7 linked regions of the Homo sapiens genome follow. Changing the gene in region 1 together with any one later gene gives a genetic interaction. Each region holds a gene or a part of one and is shown in the gene's direction. Other genes may lie near its edges.

Evidence for each region.
Region 2: changes in MICOS10-NBL1 (region 1) and MTERF3 together harm fitness less than expected from each alone (positive genetic interaction), as found in Homo sapiens cells (one large-scale study listed by BioGRID).
Region 3: changes in MICOS10-NBL1 (region 1) and PITRM1 together harm fitness more than expected from each alone (negative genetic interaction), as found in Homo sapiens cells (one large-scale study listed by BioGRID).
Region 4: changes in MICOS10-NBL1 (region 1) and MRPL3 together harm fitness less than expected from each alone (positive genetic interaction), as found in Homo sapiens cells (one large-scale study listed by BioGRID).
Region 5: changes in MICOS10-NBL1 (region 1) and KCTD10 together harm fitness more than expected from each alone (negative genetic interaction), as found in Homo sapiens cells (one large-scale study listed by BioGRID).
Region 6: changes in MICOS10-NBL1 (region 1) and KIF14 together harm fitness more than expected from each alone (negative genetic interaction), as found in Homo sapiens cells (one large-scale study listed by BioGRID).
Region 7: changes in MICOS10-NBL1 (region 1) and MED23 together harm fitness more than expected from each alone (negative genetic interaction), as found in Homo sapiens cells (one large-scale study listed by BioGRID).

What each region holds. Positions count from the first base shown.
Region 1 is NC_000001.11:19,655,979-19,658,952, forward strand, and holds the end of MICOS10-NBL1 (neuroblastoma suppressor of tumorigenicity 1 isoform a precursor), read left to right. Parts: intron 1-887; coding exon 888-1,151; 3' UTR 1,152-2,474; downstream 2,475-2,974. Other genes in the region: NBL1 (neuroblastoma suppressor of tumorigenicity 1), read left to right, coding at 888-1,151. UniProt on the Homo sapiens protein: Possible candidate as a tumor suppressor gene of neuroblastoma. May play an important role in preventing cells from entering the final stage (G1/S) of the transformation process.
Region 2 is NC_000008.11:96,255,111-96,258,610, reverse strand, and holds part of MTERF3 (transcription termination factor 3, mitochondrial isoform 1 precursor), read left to right. Parts: coding exon 1-254; exon of another isoform or gene 255-389; coding exon of another isoform or gene 390-419; intron 420-1,496; coding exon 1,497-1,649; intron 1,650-3,500.
Region 3 is NC_000010.11:3,155,783-3,159,282, reverse strand, and holds part of PITRM1 (presequence protease, mitochondrial isoform 2 precursor), read left to right. Parts: intron 1-240; coding exon 241-369; intron 370-1,129; coding exon 1,130-1,243; intron 1,244-1,751; coding exon 1,752-1,848; intron 1,849-2,218; coding exon 2,219-2,353; intron 2,354-3,500. UniProt on the Homo sapiens protein: Metalloendopeptidase of the mitochondrial matrix that functions in peptide cleavage and degradation rather than in protein processing. Has an ATP-independent activity. Specifically cleaves peptides in the range of 5 to 65 residues.
Region 4 is NC_000003.12:131,464,972-131,468,471, reverse strand, and holds part of MRPL3 (large ribosomal subunit protein uL3m), read left to right. Parts: intron 1-303; coding exon 304-381; intron 382-3,500.
Region 5 is NC_000012.12:109,453,301-109,456,800, reverse strand, and holds part of KCTD10 (BTB/POZ domain-containing adapter for CUL3-mediated RhoA degradation protein 3), read left to right. Parts: intron 1-487; coding exon 488-683; intron 684-3,146; coding exon of another isoform or gene 3,147-3,314; exon of another isoform or gene 3,315-3,500. UniProt on the Homo sapiens protein: Substrate-specific adapter of a BCR (BTB-CUL3-RBX1) E3 ubiquitin-protein ligase complex. The BCR(BACURD3) E3 ubiquitin ligase complex mediates the ubiquitination of target proteins, leading to their degradation by the proteasome.
Region 6 is NC_000001.11:200,610,752-200,614,251, reverse strand, and holds part of KIF14 (kinesin-like protein KIF14), read left to right. Parts: intron 1-3,500. UniProt on the Homo sapiens protein: Microtubule motor protein that binds to microtubules with high affinity through each tubulin heterodimer and has an ATPase activity. Plays a role in many processes like cell division, cytokinesis and also in cell proliferation and apoptosis.
Region 7 is NC_000006.12:131,600,743-131,604,242, reverse strand, and holds part of MED23 (mediator of RNA polymerase II transcription subunit 23), read left to right. Parts: coding exon 1-65; intron 66-1,038; coding exon 1,039-1,213; intron 1,214-1,861; coding exon 1,862-2,025; intron 2,026-3,500. UniProt on the Homo sapiens protein: Required for transcriptional activation subsequent to the assembly of the pre-initiation complex. Component of the Mediator complex, a coactivator involved in the regulated transcription of nearly all RNA polymerase II-dependent genes.

The sequences.
Region 1 (2,974 bases):
CTCAGGGCCCCTTTCCAGGCCCCCTGACTGGGGCACACCCTGGTACCGTTGGCTCTCAGAGCACAGTATGCCTCCGCTTCAAGCACCTTTCACACCTGCAGTCTTCCACCTGCATCCGGGTGATTTTGACAGATCTGTTTCCCCCACTAGACTCTGATTTCCTTGAAGGAAATGTGTCTTTGTGTCCCCAGAGCTGGCACAGGGTAGGCGCTCTGTGGAAGGGAGGAAGGAAGAGAGGAAGGGAGGGAGAAGGAAAAAAGGTACTTAGATGGGTGATGATAGGGGCAGAGTAGGAGGTAGATGGGGTTCCTGCAGGGTGAGCCTCAGCTGGGCTGGGCTTTGGGGTGGGGCTCTTTTGAGGAAGTGAAGTCTGAGCTCAGACCCAAAGGCGCAGTTTAGGGCATGTGGTAGTCGGCGGGGATAGGGGGGTGGGTGGGGGGAACCTTCCAGGCAAAGGGAACAGCATGTGCGGAGTCCCTGAGGCAGAGCCCAAGCACAGGATTGGTAAGAGTGGTGCAGGGTCAGGGGTAGGGGGGCCAGCCAGCTGGTGGCACCTGAAGGTCCTGGGTGGCCTTAGTGAGGGGTCAGGGTTTGTCTCCAAGTGCAGGGGGATCGCGGCGGTGGGGGCGATTTTAGCAGGGGCAGGCCACACTGGTGGCTGCTGGTGGGGAATGGGTGGGAAGGTGGCAGGACTGGATGTGAGGAGACAGCTCTGGTGGCTTGTGCAGGGGTTCAATTTCCCCCTCCCCATGGGACCCCAGAGCTAACTGGGCATCACAGGTGGGCTCTGGGATTCTTGATCCCATGAGGAAGTATTACCCTAGGGGCTGCCTTGCCTGCCCCAGACCTTTGGGAACATGCCTCTGCTTCTCTCTTGCCCTCTGCAGGTGACGCTGGAGTGCCCGGGCCACGAGGAGGTGCCCAGGGTGGACAAGCTGGTGGAGAAGATCCTGCACTGTAGCTGCCAGGCCTGCGGCAAGGAGCCTAGTCACGAGGGGCTGAGCGTCTATGTGCAGGGCGAGGACGGGCCGGGATCCCAGCCCGGCACCCACCCTCACCCCCATCCCCACCCCCATCCTGGCGGGCAGACCCCTGAGCCCGAGGACCCCCCTGGGGCCCCCCACACAGAGGAAGAGGGGGCTGAGGACTGAGGCCCCCCCAACTCTTCCTCCCCTCTCATCCCCCTGTGGAATGTTGGGTCTCACTCTCTGGGGAAGTCAGGGGAGAAGCTGAAGCCCCCCTTTGGCACTGGATGGACTTGGCTTCAGACTCGGACTTGAATGCTGCCCGGTTGCCATGGAGATCTGAAGGGGCGGGGTTAGAGCCAAGCTGCACAATTTAATATATTCAAGAGTGGGGGGAGGAAGCAGAGGTCTTCAGGGCTCTTTTTTTGGGGGGGGTGGTCTCTTCCTGTCTGGCTTCTAGAGATGTGCCTGTGGGAGGGGGAGGAAGTTGGCTGAGCCATTGAGTGCTGGGGGAGGCCATCCAAGATGGCATGAATCGGGCTAAGGTCCCTGGGGGTGCAGATGGTACTGCTGAGGTCCCGGGCTTAGTGTGAGCATCTTGCCAGCCTCAGGCTTGAGGGAGGGCTGGGCTAGAAAGACCACTGGCAGAAACAGGAGGCTCCGGCCCACAGGTTTCCCCAAGGCCTCTCACCCCACTTCCCATCTCCAGGGAAGCGTCGCCCCAGTGGCACTGAAGTGGCCCTCCCTCAGCGGAGGGGTTTGGGAGTCAGGCCTGGGCAGGACCCTGCTGACTCGTGGCGCGGGAGCTGGGAGCCAGGCTCTCCGGGCCTTTCTCTGGCTTCCTTGGCTTGCCTGGTGGGGGAAGGGGAGGAGGGGAAGAAGGAAAGGGAAGAGTCTTCCAAGGCCAGAAGGAGGGGGACAACCCCCCAAGACCATCCCTGAAGACGAGCATCCCCCTCCTCTCCCTGTTAGAAATGTTAGTGCCCCGCACTGTGCCCCAAGTTCTAGGCCCCCCAGAAAGCTGCCAGAGCCGGCCGCCTTCTCCCCTCTCCCAGGGATGCTCTTTGTAAATATCGGATGGGTGTGGGAGTGAGGGGTTACCTCCCTCGCCCCAAGGTTCCAGAGGCCCTAGGCGGGATGGGCTCGCTGAACCTCGAGGAACTCCAGGACGAGGAGGACATGGGACTTGCGTGGACAGTCAGGGTTCACTTGGGCTCTCTCTAGCTCCCCAATTCTGCCTGCCTCCTCCCTCCCAGCTGCACTTTAACCCTAGAAGGTGGGGACCTGGGGGGAGGGACAGGGCAGGCGGGCCCATGAAGAAAGCCCCTCGTTGCCCAGCACTGTCTGCGTCTGCTCTTCTGTGCCCAGGGTGGCTGCCAGCCCACTGCCTCCTGCCTGGGGTGGCCTGGCCCTCCTGGCTGTTGCGACGCGGGCTTCTGGAGCTTGTCACCATTGGACAGTCTCCCTGATGGACCCTCAGTCTTCTCATGAATAAATTCCTTCAACGCCTGTGTTCTCCTCCTCACTGACTGGCTCTGCCGACCCAGGTTCTCCAGAAGTGCCGGCAGCGAGGCCCAGAGGCAGCAGGGCCTGGGCTCGGGCAGTGGGGTGCTGAGCAGGCCTGCCTGGCCCCCACGCGGCACCACTGTCTCTGCATCCTTGTGGCCCTCTCCCTGTCTTGCCCTGTGCACCCCTGGCTCCTGATCCTCTGTCTCCCCAGCTTTCATGTCTTTCCTTGGGTGCCAGTTTCTGGCCTCGCATACACCTTGGGTGGGCCTCCAGAACTGGGCTTCATGGATTTTGGCCCCTGGTCTTGTGGGCTTGCCTCATGCCATCTCTTCACCCACACAATGGCCCAGGATCAGCCCTTGCCTGGGCCTGGCCTGCCTGGCCCCCTGGGAGAAGGGGAAACAGACAAAAGTATTGGTTACAGATTAATATATAAGGCTGGGCCCTGTGCAGGGTCCTCGCCCAGTCCGCACCACCTCCCAGTGATGCGGATATTGTCC
Region 2 (3,500 bases), on another chromosome or scaffold:
AAAACGTTTTACTAGACCAGCAAGAACACTGTTACATGGCTTTTCTGCTCAGCCTCAGATATCCTCTGACAATTGCTTTCTCCAGTGGGGATTTAAGACTTACAGGACTTCCTCCTTATGGAATAGTTCCCAGTCTACTAGCTCAAGTAGTCAGGAGAATAATTCTGCCCAAAGCAGTCTGCTTCCTTCCATGAATGAACAGTCACAGAAGACACAAAATATATCCAGCTTTGATTCTGAGCTGTTTCTAGAAGGTAATTCTGAACTTTCAGAAAAGTCTCCCTTTCCCTACTTTGGCCATTTGAACAAGCTACCTGTTTACCTTCTGCTAGCCCATTTCAGGTAATATTTTGTGCCAAGAAAGAAAAAGAATAATACCAGTTCTATTGATGAACTTCTATCATGCCTTTATTTTACTGGTAAGAAAAAAAGTTTGTGGGCTAACGTGTAAGATTATTTTATAGCTACACATATAAAACATTTGCTTTTTAAATATTTTATTGTTTAGATTCTTAAAACAAAATTCTTCTAGTGGTAATTAGTTTTATTAGGGTATAATTATATCAAGTAAAATTCATCTTGTGGGATATATAGTTCTATGAATTTTGACATATGCATTTAGTGTGTAAGAACTACTGCAATCAACAAATAAAACAATTATATTAACTCCACAGAGTTCCCTCATGGTCGCTTTTTAGTCAATCCTCTCCTTCCTATGGGTCCTATTCTAGGAATATTTCGCTGGTAATGAAATGATATAAGGTTAAGTAGAATATGAAGGAAAGAGAGCTGGGGAGAGGGCAGGGAGGAGATGCTGGCTATAAATGATGAGAAAGGATAGTTAATGATGAGAAGCACAAAACAGAACAAAAGATCACAGACCTGATTCCTTAGCTTAAGGTAATGTGTAGTTCTAAGTGTCTTCCATGCTGCGTTTGATTTTAAAAAAACAAAAACAACTTCAGAATCAGGGCTGTACTAGAGAGTCACATCTCCTGTAGAGAGGACTGCAGGTTGTAGAAACAATCATAGAAGCCCTTTTAAAGATGTATTTGAGGGTAACTTGGAAGGGAGGGCATTGGGTCAAAACAAAGACTTTCGGGATATGATTACTTTAATCCATGCAATTCAGACTGTTGGCATATGTGTACTTTTAGCCAAGTTAACAGGCTATGGTAAACTCAATCTCTGTTTCAAAATTCACTTGAAAGTTAGGTGATTTTTAGCATTCTCACCTACTGATTAAGTGAAGGAAAGGCATTGTGTGCTTTGAAATTTACCAACAAATTTCTAATCTCAGAGGAACAGTAGTTAGTCTGTCTAAATAGTTGTAACCTTACCTCTTAAAAGGTGAAAAATTAGGGACTTGGATGTTTAATTCTAAAATGATCCCAAGATTTAACCACTGAAAGAAGCAAACAAGGGAAGAGCTGGTCTTTGCAGAAATAGTTTTAAGTGTGCATATTAGAGCACTAATTTGTTTCTCTCTTTCAAAGAACTGGATGAATTGCCTCCATTGTCTCCAATGCAGCCAATTTCAGAGGAAGAGGCTATTCAGATTATTGCAGACCCTCCATTGCCACCAGCTTCATTCACACTTCGAGACTATGTGGATCATTCTGAGACTCTGCAGAAGTTGGTTCTTCTAGGTAAGTTTGACTAAACTACAAGTACTTTTTGCATGTACTCTTCATTACTTTTTTTACTTTTTTAAATTAACAATTTAATCTATACTAAGTAGTATACAAACATAAGCAAAAGTCTAATAGCATAAAGGCTTCTAGTGAGAAACCGTATTCCCTGCCTCATCCTTGGTGATCTTGCATCCTATTCCCCAGATGCATCTACTTAACTTGTATCATTCTTTCTGTTTGTGTTCAACCTCCTCATTTTAAAATAGTTGTTTGTAGTGCTGTTGTTTGGTTCATCAGTTTTAGACATCATTTGATCTCTTGTATGTACACATGTACTTTTCCTGTATTCTTTTCAATTCTCCTAATATAAATTACAATTTTAGATAAATCATTAGTCAGTAGTTAAATTATGACTATAAATATTGCTATCTGCCCTAACAAGAAGTATGCTATCATTATTTACCTTCCTGTACAACTTTTCATTTTTCCGGCAGTAATAGTTGCCTTGTTCTTCATTTGATGAATTGTTTTGTTTGTTTGTTTGTTTCTGGGGTTAAACTTTTCCATACCTTCCAGTAGCCTCTCAGGACAGTTTTTCCCAGGTAACCCTATCAGATGATGTATTTCATTTCTCCAGAGTGGATTGTTCCCTGCTTGTCACACTACCCCGACCTCCTTCCTGAAGCCACTGTCCTCCTGATTTGAATGGTTTCTAGGCCTACTCTATAGCTGCCTTCACTTGTTGACCATTAGGTTGCACTTGGATCTGGATAGCTTAAGGGAGCCAGGGGATCTCCGTCCAAACTTTCATTTAGTCATCTTATTTTTAGTCTGGCATTTTATTACAAACTTTTGCTTTCCTCATTTCTCTGGGTTTGGTACTTCTCATACTTGATTTTCCCAGATAATGAATCTCCTTTCTCCTAGTGCATTGAGAGGAACTGGATTTGGGGGAGGTCGGGTCTCTCCATACCCAATACCCCAGTTTTTAGTCTGTACCTCACCTCTAATCTCTCAGATTTCTAGGGACTCCAATTTTGGAGACTTTTGAGTTTTTTGTGGTACTGATCACTTACCACTTGCCAGATTCTCATTTGCAGGCATTTCAGTGTCGTCTTTCTCCTCTCCGATAAGGCTGTTGCCATGCTTTCATCTGTTTTCAGATGTTTTCAGATATGTGGGGATATAATCTCGTTTCCTCAAAGAAGGATCTCATTTTTTGTTTGTCATTCCCCATATTTTTGGGAGGTGATTTTTAACAGGAGAGGAAAAAGAGAAAAATCTGTGCTCTGTTAGAAACTTTGGGGGTCATCCTTGATTTTTTTTTTTTTTTTTTTCTTCAGACTGGGTCTCACTCTGTCTCCCAGGCTGGAGTACAGTGGTACCATCTCAGCTCACTGCAACCTGCCTCCCAGGTTCAAGTGATTCTCCTGCCTCAGCCTCCCTGGTAGCTGAGATTACAAGCACGTGCCACCATGCCTGGCTATTTTTTGTATTTTTAGTAGAGACGAGGTTTCACCCTGTTGGCCAGGCTGATCTTGAACTCTTGGCCTCAAGGGATCTGTCCACCTCGGCCTCCCAAAGTACTGAGATTATAGGCATGAGCCACCGCACTCGGCCTATCCTTGATTCTTATTGCTTTTGTCCCCTTCCTCTTTACATCTAATTTAATAGCTTATCCTATGGATTCTACCCTCTCTATTTCTTTCAAATCCATCCACTTCTCTCATCCTACAGTCACTACCTTGTTTAGGTCCTCATTTGTCACTGAGTGGCTGCAGGAGCCTCCTATCTTGATAGTCTTCTCCTCAGCAGTATTGGCTCTGATATCTTTCCAGTGTTAGTGCTCTTTCTGAAATGCAGATC
Region 3 (3,500 bases), on another chromosome or scaffold:
TTGGCAGGCTGTCCCATGGTGAGCATTTCGTGTGCAGTGAAGTTAATTTGATGGTTTGTGCCCCCCTTCAAAAATCCCGGTATTTAAGGAAAATTCTCTTCTGCTCATAAAATTGTTAAATGTTGAAATGCAAGAATTTCTAGAAAGATGTGTAGTGGTTTTAAATAAAATGTGCATAAGGGCCAGTAATTTTCCCTTTACTCTTTTCTTACCTCCCCGTTCCTTTTTTTTTCAATGCAGCATCACCGACACATTTGAAGCCTTCACATTAAGTCTTCTGTCTTCACTCTTGACTTCTGGGCCCAATTCTCCCTTTTACAAAGCCTTGATTGAATCTGGCCTTGGCACAGACTTTTCTCCTGATGTTGGGTGAGTTTATGATTAGATTAGATCAGTAGTTCTCATTGGTTGGGGGCAGTTTTGCTCCTCCACCTCCGCACCCTGTCCCGGCCCCACACTTGACAGTGTCTGGAACATTTTTGGATTTTTGATTGCTATAATCGGAAGATGGCGGACCAGGAAGTTGCTGAGTGTCTCATGGTACACAGGATGGCCGCCCCCATCAGGGAACTCTGGATGAGATCCTGGATCCAGTGCCAGCCATTTGTGTCCCCCCAAGGGGACATTTGTCCAAAAGAAAAACACCCAGCACAAAGACAGCTTTTCCAGGGCCTCAGAATGTCATGCTGTTGTCTCTTACAGGTCAGGTCATTAAGTATTAGAATTTTTTTTTTAGATGGAGTCTCTCCCTGTCGCCCAGGCTGGAGTGCAGTGACGCGATCTCGGCTCACTGCAAGCTCCACCTCCCGGGTTCACACCATTCTCCTGCCTCAGCCTCCAGAGTAGCTGGGACTACAGGAATTTTTAAAATTTTGTAAATCTCAGCAGTTCTCTGTTTTGATATTTATCCTGCCATAACTCAAAAGTTTAAATTTTATTTTTAAAAAATGATGTAAAAATGACATGGATGTACACAGAACCAGTTACTTGAGAACACTGCTTTAATGAGCTTTTCAGTGGAGGGGCTGGAGTTTAAGGCGCTTCGTTCTGATCTTTAAATCAAGCATATTACGAGGGCATGATGAACGTGCCCGGATTCCAGTGCATCATTTCTGGTTTTGTCTTCTAGATATAATGGCTACACGAGGGAGGCCTACTTTAGTGTCGGCCTCCAAGGGATTGCGGAGAAAGACATTGAGACCGTCAGAAGCCTCATAGACAGAACGATTGATGAAGTAGTTGAGTGAGTGTAGCTTGTTTGTAACAATCTGCTTTCGTTCCTCATTCCTGTGTGCTTTTTGGGAGAAGCTGAGCCTGATCCATTGTTTCGGCCTTCCTTCTCTGTCATATAACATGCTTTTGTTCATATTTAGTTGTTTAAATATTATCTCTGCTACCTTCTGTTACTAAAACTCTTCAACATCTTAGGTTTTTGTTTTGTTTTGAGACAGGGTCTCGCTTTGTCACCCAGCCTGCTGTGCAGTGGCGTGATCTCAGCTCACTGCATTTTCCTCCCCTACCAGGCTCAGGTGATCCTTCCACCTCAGCCTCCCAAGTAGCTGGAACTAGGGTGCACACCACCATGCCCAGCTAATTTTTGTGTAGTAGAGATGGGCTTTCTCTGTGTTGCCCAAGCTGGTCTTAAATGCCTGGCCTCAAGCAGTCCTCCTGCCTTGGCCTCCCAAAGTGCTGGGATTACAAGCATGAGCCATTGTGTCTGGCCCATCTTTGTTCTTCATTGTATTCTTTAGGAAAGGATTTGAAGATGATCGAATTGAGGCTTTACTTCATAAAATTGAAATACAGATGAAACATCAGTCTACCAGCTTTGGGCTGATGCTGACATCAGTAAGTGATCTCTCAACAATTTTGTTTTTGTTTTATAATAGACATTTTGTCTTGTTACTAGCTTAACTGGCTTTTTGATATTTTTATGTGAAATAGATTACTTTAAATGGGTAAGGGTTTATAACTAGTAATCTGTTGGTTATTTCCTAAACATTATTTCAGCCTGTGCTTTTTATTTTATTGGAACAAAACAGGGCTAAAGTAAGTTTTTTTGTTTCTCCATCCAAAGAATTACATGACTTTTGTTATAAACAATCATCTGTGGTATATTTAAATACAGAAACTAGGATTTTAGTATCAAGTCTGGGCTGTTGGTGGAGGTTGTACTGTGGTACCAGCTGCATTGTGGATGTGGAAATCTTCCTTCCAGTACATAGCTTCTTGCTGGAACCATGATGGGGACCCTGTGGAGCTCTTGAAGTTGGGAAATCAGTTAGCTAAATTCAGACAGTGCCTGCAGGAAAATCCAAAATTTTTGCAAGAAAAAGTAAAACAGTATTTTAAGGTAAGAAAGTTGGATAATTCATTTCTCTAATTTTGAAGTTGAATTTTATACTAATGAAAGGAATATTAGGAACATAATCTATACATTTAAGTAATTTCTGTTAATGGGTGACTTAATTTCTAATTAAAAATTTAAATGCTTACATTAACTTAATTATTTTCCAGATTGTAATGCAAGTTGAGTTTTTTAGATAAATGTATATGTGCATTTTTAGTGTGTGAATATATGTATGTTTGTGTGTATGAACAAAACATCTGCATATATTGTTCTTTTATTAGTAGAAGAATATAAAATATGTGAACAGTCACCCAAATGTAATGAATCTTCTGGTTTTCATGAGTGAATTCTTTTGATGCTTGCGCGTTTGTTTTCTCAGATTTTTAGGCAGTTGTGCTTGGTTGCCTGTTCTTTGCTTTGTACTCATTACTATGGTAGAACTTTTAAAAAGGGTTCCCGTGGTGGGAGAGACTGTTGTCTGCTGTGAAGGGAAACTCTCCAGTAGGTTCCATTGTTTTAGACATGAGATATGATTTAATAATTTGACCTGCAGTTTCTCTCAGCTGTTGTAAGTTATTTTCCATGAACTTTCTGGTGTCTTCTAGTTATCTCACCTGTTTGTAGTATTTTATATGGGAGCATTTTGTGCATGTGTAGTTTTTTAATTGTTGAAACAAGGAAAGGACATGAAATCACCTAATGTTCATTTTTATATTAACGTCAACATGTATTTTGTTCTAATAACTTACGAAGTATTGAATGGGAAATGTAGTTCTAGCCTTTTAGAGCTTAATAGTAGAATGAACGCTAGACAAAAAATAGAATTCTATATTATCTTCAATTAGACTAAAATCCAAGATCTGTAGTACTTGAAAGTGCAAACCTTTTTACAACTAAGATGTAATGAAAATGTTTAGTATTGATATGTTTAAGACTTAATGACCATAATAATAATAACAGTAGAATAACAGCATATATGAATTCTGTGCTTACTACATAGGCAGGTATGGTGGTAAGCATTTTATAAGGCTTGTGTACTTGCATCAGCAAAACAACTCTTGAGGTGCGTTCTATTATTACTATTTTTAAAGTGGGAAAGTGGAACCACAGGACCAAGAACACACCAGCAGAAGCTTGTTGAGTGTTAGGA
Region 4 (3,500 bases), on another chromosome or scaffold:
AATTTCCACTTGTTATTGTTAATGGTGCCAACAGAGTCCTTTGAAATATCCAAATAGTCTTGATCATTCAGTCACATCTCTATTTAAAATGAGAGTTTTCTACTACTTCCATAAGATATATTTGCTATGGTCTTCTATTACAAGTCATCCATAGGACTTGAAGTTTTTCAGTTCTTATTCAACATTCTGAAGTACTGGTAATAATCTTTTATTACTTTACAAGCAACTTACATCCTCAGCTTTTAGTAACATTGTTTTAATACAAGTATATCCTAAAATTTTTGGTTTTATTTCATGCTTTAGGTGTGGAGAATAAACACAAAGCACAACATAATCTATGTAAATGGCTCTGTACCTGGACATAAAAATTGCTTAGTAAAGGTAAGTATAAGTGTCTTCTTTTTTTTTCCTTTTTTTTTTTTGTTTCTTACTCGCAAGCTAACAAATTACTATCTTTATTTTCTATTGTTTATATATGTGGATATTTGCCATAAAGTCTCCTTTTTCTCATATATGTGGCTTATAAATAAATGGCTGTTTTTCCACATGTTCTCTCCTGAATCTTTCTGCTTTTTAGTAGCACCTGAGTGAAAAAAATGCACAAGATAACCTGTATTCTATTTCTTTCAAACCAAGAACCTGTAAAAAGGGTAAGGCTGTGTATTAGTCCATCCTAATAGAATGGATGGACTCCTATAAAGAAATACCTAAGATTGGGTAATTTATAAATAAAAGAGGTTTAATTGGCTCGTGGTTCCACAGGCTGTTCAGGAAGCATGGCTAGGGAGGCCTCAGGAAACTTACAATCATGGCAAAAGGGGAAGGAGAGATGGACATGTCTTACATGGCTGGAGCAGGAGGAAGAGAGGGAAGGGGGAGGTGCTACACATTTTTAAACAAGATCTTGTGAGAACTCACTATCACGAGAACAGCAAGGGGGAAGTCTGCCCCCATGATCCAATCACTTCCCACCAGGCCCCTCTTCTAACATTGGGGATTACAATTTGACATGAGATTTGGGCGGGGACAAAAATCCAAACCATATCAGGCCAGTAAGCAGAAAGATCTTCAGGAATATGAGAAGGATATTTGGAAAACTATTGCCAAAATACCAGTATATCTCTGTCCTTCCAAAAGGAACATGTTAGCTTTTTAAAGTGCCCCATCTACAAATGAATGGATAAAGAAGATGTGGTGGGTGTGTGTGTGTGTGTGTATGTGTGTGTGTGTGCGCGCGTATGGCTGAAGAATATTCTAGAGAATGCACACACACGCTAGAATAATCTTCAGCCATAAACAGAATGAATTGCTATTGTTTGTGGTGACATGGATAAACCTGGAGGACATTATGTTAAGTGTAATAAGCTAGGCACAGAAAGACAAATATTGCATGATCTCACTTTTATGTAGAATCTAAAAGTTGATTTCATAGAAGTAGAGAACAGAATGGTTTTACCAGAGGCTGGGGGAAAATAGTGGGGAGGAGAGCTGGCGGAGGTGGTCTACAAGCACAGAGTTAGTTAGGAAGAATACATTCCGGTATTCTGTTATATAGTAGGGTGACTGACTATAGCTAATAGTAAGGTATATTTCAATATAGGTAGAAGAGAGGATTTTGAATGTTATCACCATAAAAGAAATGATACATGTTTAAAGTAATGGATATGCTAGTTATCCTGATTTTATCATTATACAATGTATATTTATTGAGACATCACACCATACATATATATGTACAATTATGTGTCAATTATAAGTAAACCCTGCCCCCACCCCCCCCCAAAAAAAATGCTTTTTGGCTTTTAAAAGAGTTACTTTGACAAACCAGAAATACATGAGGTAAAAATTGGAATCATCAAAAGTGGTTAAAGGTAGACATTTGAGGGGGAGCTTTTTTATTATTACTAACACCATGCTCTGATTATATCTTTTAAGTGTTTTTCTTAAAAAAAAGAAAAAAGTAAAAAATTTGTACCGATAGCTCAGATACATTTTAATAAAAACTCTTTAAGTTCTCAGAGACTTACTTCCATAAAATAGAAAATAAATATTCTGCCTGGGGTTTATTCCAACCTAATACAAATTTTCTTACCTCTGAGTTTTGAATCTTCCATGCTGAAAATAAGTTTGTATTAGAAGTTATGTCAGCTGTTCTCCAGAGTATACTCTTCATTGATTTTCCAATGATAGCAGCAAAGAAATAGTGAAACTTAATCCTCTGATTTTTTAAACTCAGTGTTTCCTTATATATTTTTTTTCATTTCTAGGTTCCATTACTAGCATAGGGAATAATTTTTTGAAATCTTGCAAGGAATAAGAATTTTGCTTTTTAAAATTACCTTTCTGAGACACTTCACTTACTGACTGGATTATTCTCATTTTTGTTAAAGAAAAAAATGCATTTAAGCCAGGCCTGGTGGCTTGCATCTGTAATTCCAGCTACTCAGGAGGCTGAAGTGGGAGGATAGGATCACGTGGCCTCAGGAGTTGGAGGCTGCAGTGAGCTGTGATCACACTATTGCCTTCTAGCCTGGGCAACAGAGTGGGACCTTGCTTAAAAAAACAAAAAAAAAAAAAAAAGAGAGAAAAAGAAAAATGTATTTGATGAATTTTTGTAAGTTTTGTTTTTTCCTTAAGTTTGCAGGTTTTTAAGTTTAAGTAGGTTTCTAGTCCCCAAGTAAGGCAGTCATACTTACAATGACAGATAGTTGAAGCCAGAGTATTGTCATTGTACTTCCCGTGGTATTTTGTCTTCATAATTCATGTGAAGACATATCTTCATATCCCTAGCCCCACATTTCAGATCACAGGTTATAAATAGCACAACCTGATAAAGGAGAAGGATTATTTTTTATAATAAAAGTATACTGGACACCAGATTAATTTTTAAATGTCAAATCCTCCTTTTCTGCCTATTTTTCTACATACATGATTCTAGGCTGGTTTTCTAGCTGAACCTTACCATTAATTGCTGTGACTTCTCAAGTACTACTACAACATCTTCTCAAGTACTTCTACAATATCCCTGTTACCAGCAGAGATGAATGGTCAATTATCTTGAAAAACTGTAGTACATACAATGACATTCTGATGTAGTTGTATAAATAGTTGATAACCAGTAACATTTATTACTCAGATTTATCGCCTACTTCAGTAAAAGATTACTTCCAAAAACTCTATTCACTCTCAATCGATAATAGTTTGCCATCACTGAAGATACTCAGAAGATACACCAAAGAGTTCTGAAACGGGAGTCTAAATACATTTTGAGAAACTGGCATCAGAACAATGTCTAGTCCCTTTTGAACTATTAACACACTAGTGAATATATTTCCAGCAAGTATATTTGTATAATAAACACGTCCTTTAAAAAAATCTTTGAAATATGGTGCTTAAATAACTTTCTTTTGTAACCTTAAAGTATCTGCCCAGGCATTAATTAAGGTATGAATTTGGGGAACATTTTATAGGTTTGTGTTTTAAATGGTAAAACTTGCTAT
Region 5 (3,500 bases), on another chromosome or scaffold:
TTCTAGAATGCCATTTGGCCCTTGAAAACATGTGGCTCTAACTCAGGAACTTGAGGGATGCAGGGAGGATTTAATCAGGTTACTCAAGATCTTTAAAAAGACCTAGGATATAGAGTCTCCCTTGGGCAGTGCCATTCTGCTCCTCTTGGGGCTCGGTGAGGTGCTCTCCTCCACCTGGTGCCTGTGCCCAGAGGCTGTCACTCAAGCACAATGGTTAGGAGCACTCAGGCTTAGGGGCCAGGGCTGTCTTTTGGGGGGCGTGTCTGCCATTTATTAGGTTCAGCCTTGAGCAATTACCTAATTTCTCTGATCCTCACTTTCCTTCTTGAGTGATGGAGATTGGAGTGCCTTTGTCATGGGATTATTGTGAGGTTGAAATGAGGTAGTGGAGAAAGTGGGCTCAGTAGGGCCCTGCGTGTAGAAGGGCCCAGCAAATGATGGCAGTTTTTACCAGCTTGTGGTCACCGTATCAAATGCTCTTTTGCAGCAATTCTGACGACAATATGTTGAAAAACATTGAACTGTTTGATAAGCTGTCTCTGCGCTTTAACGGAAGGGTCCTGTTCATAAAGGATGTTATTGGGGATGAAATCTGCTGCTGGTCCTTTTATGGTCAGGGCCGGAAGATTGCTGAAGTCTGTTGTACCTCCATCGTCTATGCCACTGAGAAGAAACAGACCAAGGTAAGAGCCTCGAGAGGACAGTTTGGAGTGGCTGTTCTGAAACACACACCTATAGAACTTCCTTTCACTTGAGCCCAATACAGAGGGAAATGCTTTTAAAATGCTTTGCTTGCCTTGTGATTGCTCATCCTTAAAATATTTATCTTTTAGGCCCTGCAAGGAGCCAAATGTAGGGTTCATCTGGCATTCCTTTAGCTCCCTACCTTGCTGGCTTCCTTCCAAGCATGCTTGACTCCCTGACTGGGCTGGACTCTGGGGATGTGTTTTTATATCATCCTCTCCAAACCAGTAGGCTTGACCTATCCTTTGACTTCTCCCACCATGCCGTTCCACAAAGCTGGATTGCTCTGCATAGTGCTGCTAGAGATCTGGCCCCCCCTTAATTGAATTTGCCTGCCCTTTTGGGGCTCTGCAATTGGGTTTTCTGTCTTTTTAAACTTTTAATTCACATTATACACTCTGTCATTTCTTTAACGTGTCTAAGGGAATTCTGGCTATCCAGTGACATGCAGCAGGTCTGCTGTGGGCCGACGGTCATGCCTCTTGTCACCCTTGCACAGGAGTCTTAAGAGCCTGAGCCTGTAGGTCACTTACCCAGGTTACTATTGTCCCTGCAGCTTTTGGGGCCACAGTTCTGCATGATTCTGTAGCTGACCTCGAACAAAAAGCAAATGAGAAGAAATCATCACATCACAAAGTAGAAACCAGAGTCTTTTTTTTTTTTAACTTATTATTGAAAATTGAAGCCATACACAGAATTATAGTGTGGTGATTTCCCCTGTGCCATCACGCCACGTCAAGGGCCATCAGCTTGGGCACTCTCACTCAGTCTGTATCTACTCCTCCTCCCCAGCACTCACAGGATGAATTTGACAACATATTTTATTCCTAAGCATTCAAAATCTATCCTAAAAGAATAGATATTGTTCTTAAGGTAGCCAAGAAGTGCTAAACACTGAGGTTCTTTTTGCTTTCAAAGATCCCGGGGGCAGGGGGTGAACCAGAATCATCTGCCTCTCTCTCCACATTGGCAAGACATCATGCCCCTTTTCTCCTGTGAACTGTTTTTTTTTTTTCAGGGCTGTGAATTCTTCCTGTAATTAGACCCCCATTCTGTCATGGTTTGATTTTTTAAAAATATACCTGGGCTGCCTCTGCCCTTGGGTAGTAAGAGGAGAGTCACCATATTGATTAAGCTTTAAAAGATTAAGACTTCTCATTTTTAGAGCTTAATAAGGAACAAGGGGATTTAGAGACCACATGGTCTGATCCCAACTGTTTCTAGATTAGCAGACAGGTTCAGGAGTGGCATGTTCTTGTGTTTGTAAAGCTAGTTAGTGGCAGAGCCAGGATGGGAAGCCAAGGGCCTCTTTCTTTTCTCTTTGTTTTGAGAGAGAGTGTTGCTCTGTCACCCAGGCTTGAGTACAGTGACACAATCATAGCTCAATGCAGCCTTGAACTCCTGGGCTCAAGTGATCCTCCTGCCTCAGCCTCCTGAGTAGCTGGGTCCACAGGTGCATGCTACTACACCTGGCTCATTTTATTTATTTTTGTAGGGACTGGCTTTCACTATGTTGCCCAGGCTGGTCTCGACCTCCTGGCCTCAAGTGGTCCTTCTACCTTGGCCTCCCAAAGTGTTGGGATTACAGGCATGAGCCACTGCACCCAGCCCATATCACTCTCCTCTCCTGTCTCATCTCCACTCTGTTATTGAGCCCTGCTGGTAAGTTGTGTTTTTGTTTGAGGTTGTTGGTTATTGTATTTGTCAGTTCTCAAGTGCTCATTTGGTTTTTCTGTCTCCTTGCTGAGACTCCCTATGTTTCCATTTGCTCTAAGAGCATTGGCCCTTACTTACTGGAACAGGTTAATAATAGCTGCTGCCAGGTCTTTGTCAGGTAATTCCAAAACCTTGTGTCACCTTGGCGCTAGCATCTGTGAGTTATTTCCCACAGGAGTTGAGAATTTCTTGGTTCTTGTGTATTGAGAAATTTTGATTGTATCCTAAACATTTTGAATATTGTTAAAGGACTCCAGGCCTTGTTTAAATCCTAGGGAGAACATTGATGTTTTTGTTTTAGCAGGCAATTGACCCAGTTGGGCTCAGGCTGCAAGCTCTAACCAGCCTTCTGTAGTTTGTAGTTGCGGTGACAGTTTGATTTTCAAAGCCTTCAAATCTGTCCTAGCTGTGTGCCATGCTGTGGCCCGTCTGTCCTGGGCAGTATCTCTTGCAGCATTCAGTTCTTTCAGTCTGCGTATGCAGTTTAGGGGTAGATCTTGCAGCTGGGTGTGGGTCTAGGAGTTCATATACAACTTCACAGGCTGCTTTCTCAAGCTCCTCTTCTCCGCAGTTCTCTAAGCTTCCCTGGAGTCCCCTTCTCTGATCGGCCAGCCAGAAAGCTGGGGGTTTGGTTATTCCCCCTTTGCCACCCACTTTCTGTAACCATGCCTGTATTTTGGGCCCAGGAGCATGAAGATAGAAAAAGCAACCAGATTCTCCCAATCCTGCTGAGACCACAGCTCTTCTCATCAGAAAAGAAGGTTCCTTCCCTCAGAGTTTTGACTCCTGCAGTCTCTGGTTGCTGCCACAGGAATGCTCAGGTCTGGGTGCAAGAAAATAAAGAAAAGGACTGAGCATGGTGGCTCACACCTGTAATCCCGCACTTTGGGAGGCCAAAGCAGAAGGATTGCTTGAGTCCAGGAGTTTAAGACCAGCCTGGGCAACATAGCAACACCCCTGTCTCTACCAAAAATTTTTTAAAAAATAGCTGGGCATGGTGGTGTGTGCCTGTAGTCTAAACTACTTGGGAGGCTGAGGTG
Region 6 (3,500 bases), about 180 Mb from region 1:
GTCATGGCCACTAAGGAAATACTTAATGGAAGATCAGTTCTAATTTGTAGATCACTCTTCTTTGGAACAGTGGTATGGAGAGGGAGGGTGGAAATTCTAAATTCAGAATCAGTTTCACCTAGTGGGCAGTGATAGTGAAGTCATCTCTTCTGTCTTTTCTCCCTTGTTTTTGCTTTACTTTTGTGTATACGTAGAGGCTCACAAACATGGTAGCTATGTGCTGTTATACGTGTGTTTGTAGTCAGATAGGTGTACAGTTTAACTAAGGACAGCAGGCATAACCTTTTGGACAACGTGAATCAGAAAGAGTAGTGAAATTGGGATTTGAACCCAGAGTTGACTTCAAAAGCCATGCTTTTTCCACTCTACTACACCTGAATAGGCTGTACTGGCTTCCTATTTCACTTATTCATTTACACATTCAGCTACCTTTTACTGAGCATTCTGCTGTTGCCAGGCAGCTTGTTAGATCAGTTTTTTTTTTTCTCAAATTTTCTTGGTCATAAGAATCACCGGGGATTCTTGGCAGGGACATATATGTGCATGTGTATGTGTATGTACACACTTGCTAAAAATCTCTTCTGGGGGTTCTGAGTCAGTTGGTCTGGTGTAGAGCTTGGGATTTTATAATTTTCATGCTTTTCCTCCAGTATTTTTTATGATAAAGGAAATTGGGAAAATTGTGCTAGATTAGGGGTGTGGAGTTAAAAGACCCAGTCCCTGTATTCAAAGGAGTGTAGTGGGAGAAATAAGTTAACAGCCAAGTACAATCAATTAAATGCTAAACAAACTAAAGTAGATGCTCTAATAGAACATGTAAGTGAGGACATATAAAGTTGGAGGGAGACATTCTCTCAGAGGAAGGAGCAGCTGAGCTTATTTTTGAAGGATACATAGCATTATTAGCTTGGTAAAGAAGGGGAGAAGGATATTCCAGGGAGAGGGAGCAGCATGTACCAAGATTTGAAAGCAAAAAAGTAGGGAGCCTTTGGGAATCTATAAATTGTTCACTGTGTTTTGAGCATGGAATTTGAGGGTGGAAAGTGATAAGAGAAGAAACTAGAGGCTGGGTGCGGTGGCTCATGCCTGTAATCCCAGTACTTTGGGAGGCCGAAGCGGGCAGATCACCTGAGGTCAGGAGTTCGAGACCAGCCTGGCCAACATGGTGAAATCCTGTCTCTACTAAAAATACAAAAATTAGCCAGGTGTGGTGGCACATGCCTGTAATCCCATCTACTTGGGAGGCTGAGGCAGGAGAATCGCTTGAACCAGGGAGATGGAGGTTGCAGTGAGCCGAGATCGCGCCACTGCACTCCAGCCTGGGTGACAGAGCATGACTCCATCTCAAAAAAAAAAAAAAAAAAAAAAAAGAGAATAAACTAGAAAGGCCTGCAGAACTTGGCTCATGAAGGACTGTCTTAGTAAGGATAACTGGTAAGACTTGCTGATTATTGGAAATGGAGGATGAGGGAGAGAGAAATCAATGTTTCTGGTTGGACAACCAGATTAGATATCGATGTCATTTTTTGAGATCACAAGAGGAAAAGTAGATTTGAGTAATTGATGAGTTCTGTCTCTTCTGTGGATATACTGCCTCTCCTCTGTCTTCTTCTACCCTCAACCTCTCATTCCCAGTAATTAAATTGAAAATAGGAGGAGTATGGGGATCAATAGAAATATGGTGGTATTGAGACTATGAGATGAAATATGATTCAAGTCCAAGTTTAGTGGGCATAAGAGAAAGCTGTGGGCTTGTGGGGCAGAGTTCTCTATTGGCTCTCCAGATTTTAGAGGGATAGTAATTTGAAGGTAAAGCCAGGAAGACATAGATAAGTGTAGTGGAGGCAAAGGTCTTTGGAATGATTTCAAAGGACTAGGAGGCTCAGATTTTGCGTGGAATGACTATGTCATTGAATAACATAGTGTAATGAATGCTTAAGAGCCTGGTTGGCCAGGCATGGTGGCTCACGCCTGTAATCCCAGCACTTTGGGAGGCCAAGGCAGGCGGATCACCTGAGGTCAGGAGTTTGAGACCAGCCTGGCCAACATGGTGAATCCCTGTCTCTACTAAGAATACAAAAATTAGCCAGGTGTGGTGGTGGGCGCCTGTAATCCTAGCTATTCGGGAGGCTGAGGTAGGAGAATCGCTTGAACCCTGGAGGCGGACATTGCACTGAGCTGAGATCATGCCACTGTACTCCAGCCTGGGCGACAGAGCAAGACTCTGTCTCAAAAAAAAGAAAAAAAAAAAGAGCATGGACTTTGGAGATACATTATTTGAATTTGAATCTCAGCTTCATCACTGCAGTAGAAATGTGATCTTGAACAATTTACTTAATGTCTTTCTGTGTTTCAGAACAGAAAATAGAGATTATATTGACAATGTCTTTCTCATAGGTTTGTTGTGAGCATTAAATGAGTTGATCTATACAAAAGGTTTTGAAGAGTGCCTGGCACATAGTGAGCCCAACTAAATGTGGTTATATCAACTTTGGAATTAGCCAGGATGGTAGAGAATAATAGTATGTGGATGGGGGTAATAGAAGGTGGTATAGCGAGCATGATGGCAGGAGCCTCAGAGGAGAAGAAAAAAGTAGGACCTCTCCAGTGTGGCCCCAGCTACCTTTTCCAATTTGTTTCCCACACTACATTTTCATTTCTAAGTCCTCCTGGAGCCTCTATAACATAAAATACTATTTTACATAAAATAAGCATTATTACGTGTTTATTGAATTCTGACAGCCCCCATCCCTGTTCATAGCATTTGTCAATGACCTTATAATTACTTGGTGTTCCCTTATACCTGGTCTCTTTGGAAGTGTTTTGTTTCTCTCTCATGACACCAGCTATATTCTGCCTTGTATTACTCATGTACTGTATTGCATCTCCAATTAGCTTCTGAGTTTTTTCAGGATAAAAACTATGTCCAGTTCATCTCATATTTTCCCACAGCTCCTAGAAGAGTGCTTTGTACCTAGTAGGGCACAATAAATATTTGGTGAATTGAACTTAAATCTCTTTGACACTCCCTTGAAGCTTCCAATTCTGTTAGATGCTTGCTGACTCACTTCTGGGTCAGTGGATGAAATTTATTTCTCTAATAAGGAAACCATGCCCTAACTGTCAGAAGAGCTGTTTGGAAGCAAAGTTTCCCGTTTTTGGCCTCTACACTGTATCTTTCAGAGTCAAAAGGAGGAGAAGCTCAGCCCACTTAATCTAATGATTGCTTTCTCTCCCAATCAGGAAGAATTGTTGATTTAAGGTTCCATCTTACCAGATCAAATGTCAACCTACAGGGTGTCTTTCCTATTCTGAGCACATGTGATGCACAGATGCTGCTGTCCTTGCCCGAGAATGCCCTACCCCCTCTTTCTGGTTCAATCTACTCTGTCTCTCATGCCTCACATTCTATTTACTCCTTCCCTTTTCTCTGGCCATCCTAAATTTTCCCTTTTCTGATTAGTCATATTTATAGTCATCTCATTTTGATTCTTAATTAA
Region 7 (3,500 bases), on another chromosome or scaffold:
GGAAACTTACAGTCGTTTATTGGTCTATATGGAAATAGAGTCTTTGGGCATCAAAGGATTTATCAGTAAGACAGGACTTTCTGGTGTTTATAACTATTAACCCATTCATTAACTCTAAAGTTACTTTTCTAGGTCCTGGGGACACAGCAGAGAACAAGTCACCACCATGATGGAGCTTATGGAGGAGGACATTAAATAAATGAAATATACAATATGTCAGATGATACATGTTATAGAGAAAAATAAAGCAAAAAGGAATAGGAAGTGTGAGGGTTGGGGGGTTTGTTGCATTTTTAAGTAAAGTGGTAAGAAAAGGTTAATGTGCTAGGTGCCTGGGATGCAGTGAGCAGGATAGACCTGGTCCCTGTCCTCATGCAAATGGATTCTGCCTGAGGCAGCAATGCTGTCCTCCAGTGCATACGAAGTCTGACTGGAAATAAAGAAGGAATTTTCCTACCTTGCAGAAGATACATTATAATGTCTCATTTATTATATAGTTCTAAAATAATAGATACTTTCTGATATAGAAGTGTTTTTCTGATTCATGGTAATTCCAGCTTTTCACGAATACAGCATAGTCTTAATTTTAACCACAATAACTCTTCTTAGATAACTGATTGTTGAACAAAACTTTCTTGGGGGTAGGAGGAAACAAGGGCAGGTATAATACAATTTTTTGTATTAAAAAGTGAACCTCATACTTCAAAAGGTATGGAACATTAATTGTCTAAAAATAAAAGATATCAGAATTGAGAAGATTAATGTTTTTTCATATCTTGTCTCATTTTATTTTTCCAGATAAACATGATTATCAATTGCCAAATCCCAGGAAAAAAGCAAACTTGATATTATAGTTAGGATCTGAATTTTTCCTTACTGTTAAAGTAGAAAATAAGAAAATATGGAGAATATATATGTGTGTGGGCGTGTGTATTTTCACAATCAAATCTTTATATTTTACTCAATGTGACTTTCTTCAAATATCTTTTCATGCATAGCCTTTAATAATTGGTACCTTAAATTGTCTTTTTCCTCCAGGTCAGCTTTTGCCAACTGTTTTCAAATCACATGCATGGGGGATCTTACACACACTCCTTGAGATGTTTAGCTACCGGATGCATCATATTCAGCCTCATTACAGAGTTCAGCTCCTGAGTCATCTTCATACTTTGGCTGCAGTTGCACAAACAAACCAGAACCAGCTCCATCTTTGGTGAGCTCATTGAAGACCATCTTTCCTTAAGATTTATTAGAAACTTTCTTGGAGATGAGGTTCTTAATCCTTTACCTTTACCTTATAGTTTTTTTTTTTATTATTATTCATCTGTCATAAAACTTCTCTGCTTCTAAAGTATTTTGTTTCCAGTATAGGAGCAGAGTCCAGCTTTTTAAATAGAAACTGATTAAGATAGTTGAGTCCTTCCTTCAGGATCTTTGGACTGAGAATTAGTACTTCCAGGGTATTTATTATTATGTTGTAACTTAGCCCTTTAGAATGCTGGTTTTAAGTATACTTCAGATTATGGTTAAAGTATCATGTCACATTGATTTTGCTTTACATTAAAATATATTTTAGATAGAAAAATATAATTTTTGAAATGCAGTATCTCCAGGTGAAATTTTTTAGTCCTATAGGCGACAAGCCATCTTTTTCAAATGTGTAAAAAGTCACGATTTTCACTATAAAATTGGACACATTAGGTTTTTTAAACAAATTAAGCAACATTTATTCTCACACAAAAGTGTTTTTTTAAAGAAGGGATAGTCATAGATTGCATGTTTTTCCATTGTAATTAACCTTAGATTTAATTCCATAATTCTGAAATTTTTTTACATTTCTTTTTATTCTCCCAATTTTCAGTGTCGAGAGCACTGCTCTCAGGCTTATAACAGCATTAGGTAGCTCAGAGGTACAACCGCAGTTTACACGCTTCCTTAGTGATCCCAAAACAGTGCTCTCAGCAGAATCTGAAGAACTGAACCGAGCCTTGATATTGACCTTGGCTAGAGCAACTCATGTAACAGGTACGGTGAATATGTGACTACAAACAACAACAGATGAATTAAAGTGTGCCATGATTCTACTAATTACTATAGTTGTAACATACTAAAAAGATACTTTTCATTTGTTTGAAAAAAGCCTGTTGTTTTGATATCTTCACTATTTCACTCATTTATGGAAGCTCTTTTGTGTACCATCATTCTATTAATAACTGCGTTGAGCATCGTTTTCAGCTATCCATAATTTTAAAGTAGTAATACTTTAAGCTTTTTGGTCTCAGGACTGCTTTACACTCTTAAAAACAAAATTGAAATTCCCAAAGAGTTTCTGTTTATATGGATTATATCTATGGATATTTATTATATTAGATATTAAAATTAAGAAGTTTAAAAATATTTATTAATTTGTTTTTAAATAGCAATAATAAACATTACATGTTAATATATGATGTTATAAAAAAAGTATATTTTCTAAAGCAAAACTTTAGTGAGAAGAGGTGCCATTGTTTGACATTTTTGCTTCTCTAATATCTGGTGTAAAGGAAGACATAGTTTGGATTCTCATCTGCTTAGACATTTAATCCATTGAAGTTTTAGTTGAAGTAAGTGAAAAATGTGGCCTCACACAGATGAGGTTGGAAAGAGAGGAGTATTTTAATAGCTTTTTCAGATAATTGGGAATGTTCTTTGACATCACATGGAAAAATGATAGTTGCTTAAAGGTTAGCTGCAATATGGAATCCAAAACCCCCAGTAAACTTCATGTACTTTGTTACATTATAATCTGTACATCTGTTTTATACATTTAGTGGATTTTTAAATCCATGCATGTTTTGTAACTTCATGAATTATTCATTTTGAAAATACTGGTTCACTGAGTTACGTAGATCTAGCAAACGTTGACATTTTGTTTATACAGTATCAGAAAATTACATTTGTTAATATCACTGCAAAGTTTATTAGAAAAATCTAAGTTTTGGAATGCTATCATGTCGTGGTAGATACAGGTTTTCCAAAATTTCAATTTTTACTTGAAAGGTCAAATTTTATCATTGGAAAAAGTTACTATCATTTGTTTTCCTTAAAGTGACAAGCTCATTTTGTTAATTTTCAAGAAAATGTCTGCTAAATACGTAAGTCTAGCTAGCTATAGTTTTCTGTCAGACGTTCTTTCAAGTAAAATTGGAATTCAAAAAAAAAAAAGCAGCTGATTTAACTCAGTGCTCAGTCAGTCACACAAGTGCACAAGTGTTTTTCCTCAAGACACCCATCAAACTTGGAACACTAGGCATATGCTTCCCCTTTTGTTACATATGATGTTAAAAATAGGTGTCGAGATTGACACTGGCACTTTTCTTTCACTGAGTGCATGTGCTGGAGAATACAAAGCCTTTTCATCTAGTCTGGCACCACTGTTTGATTTGTGCTTAGGACCAGCAGTTTTACCACCATTGCTTTTGTACCGTCAGTGCTCATACCAAGTGAAAAAGCCTGATATC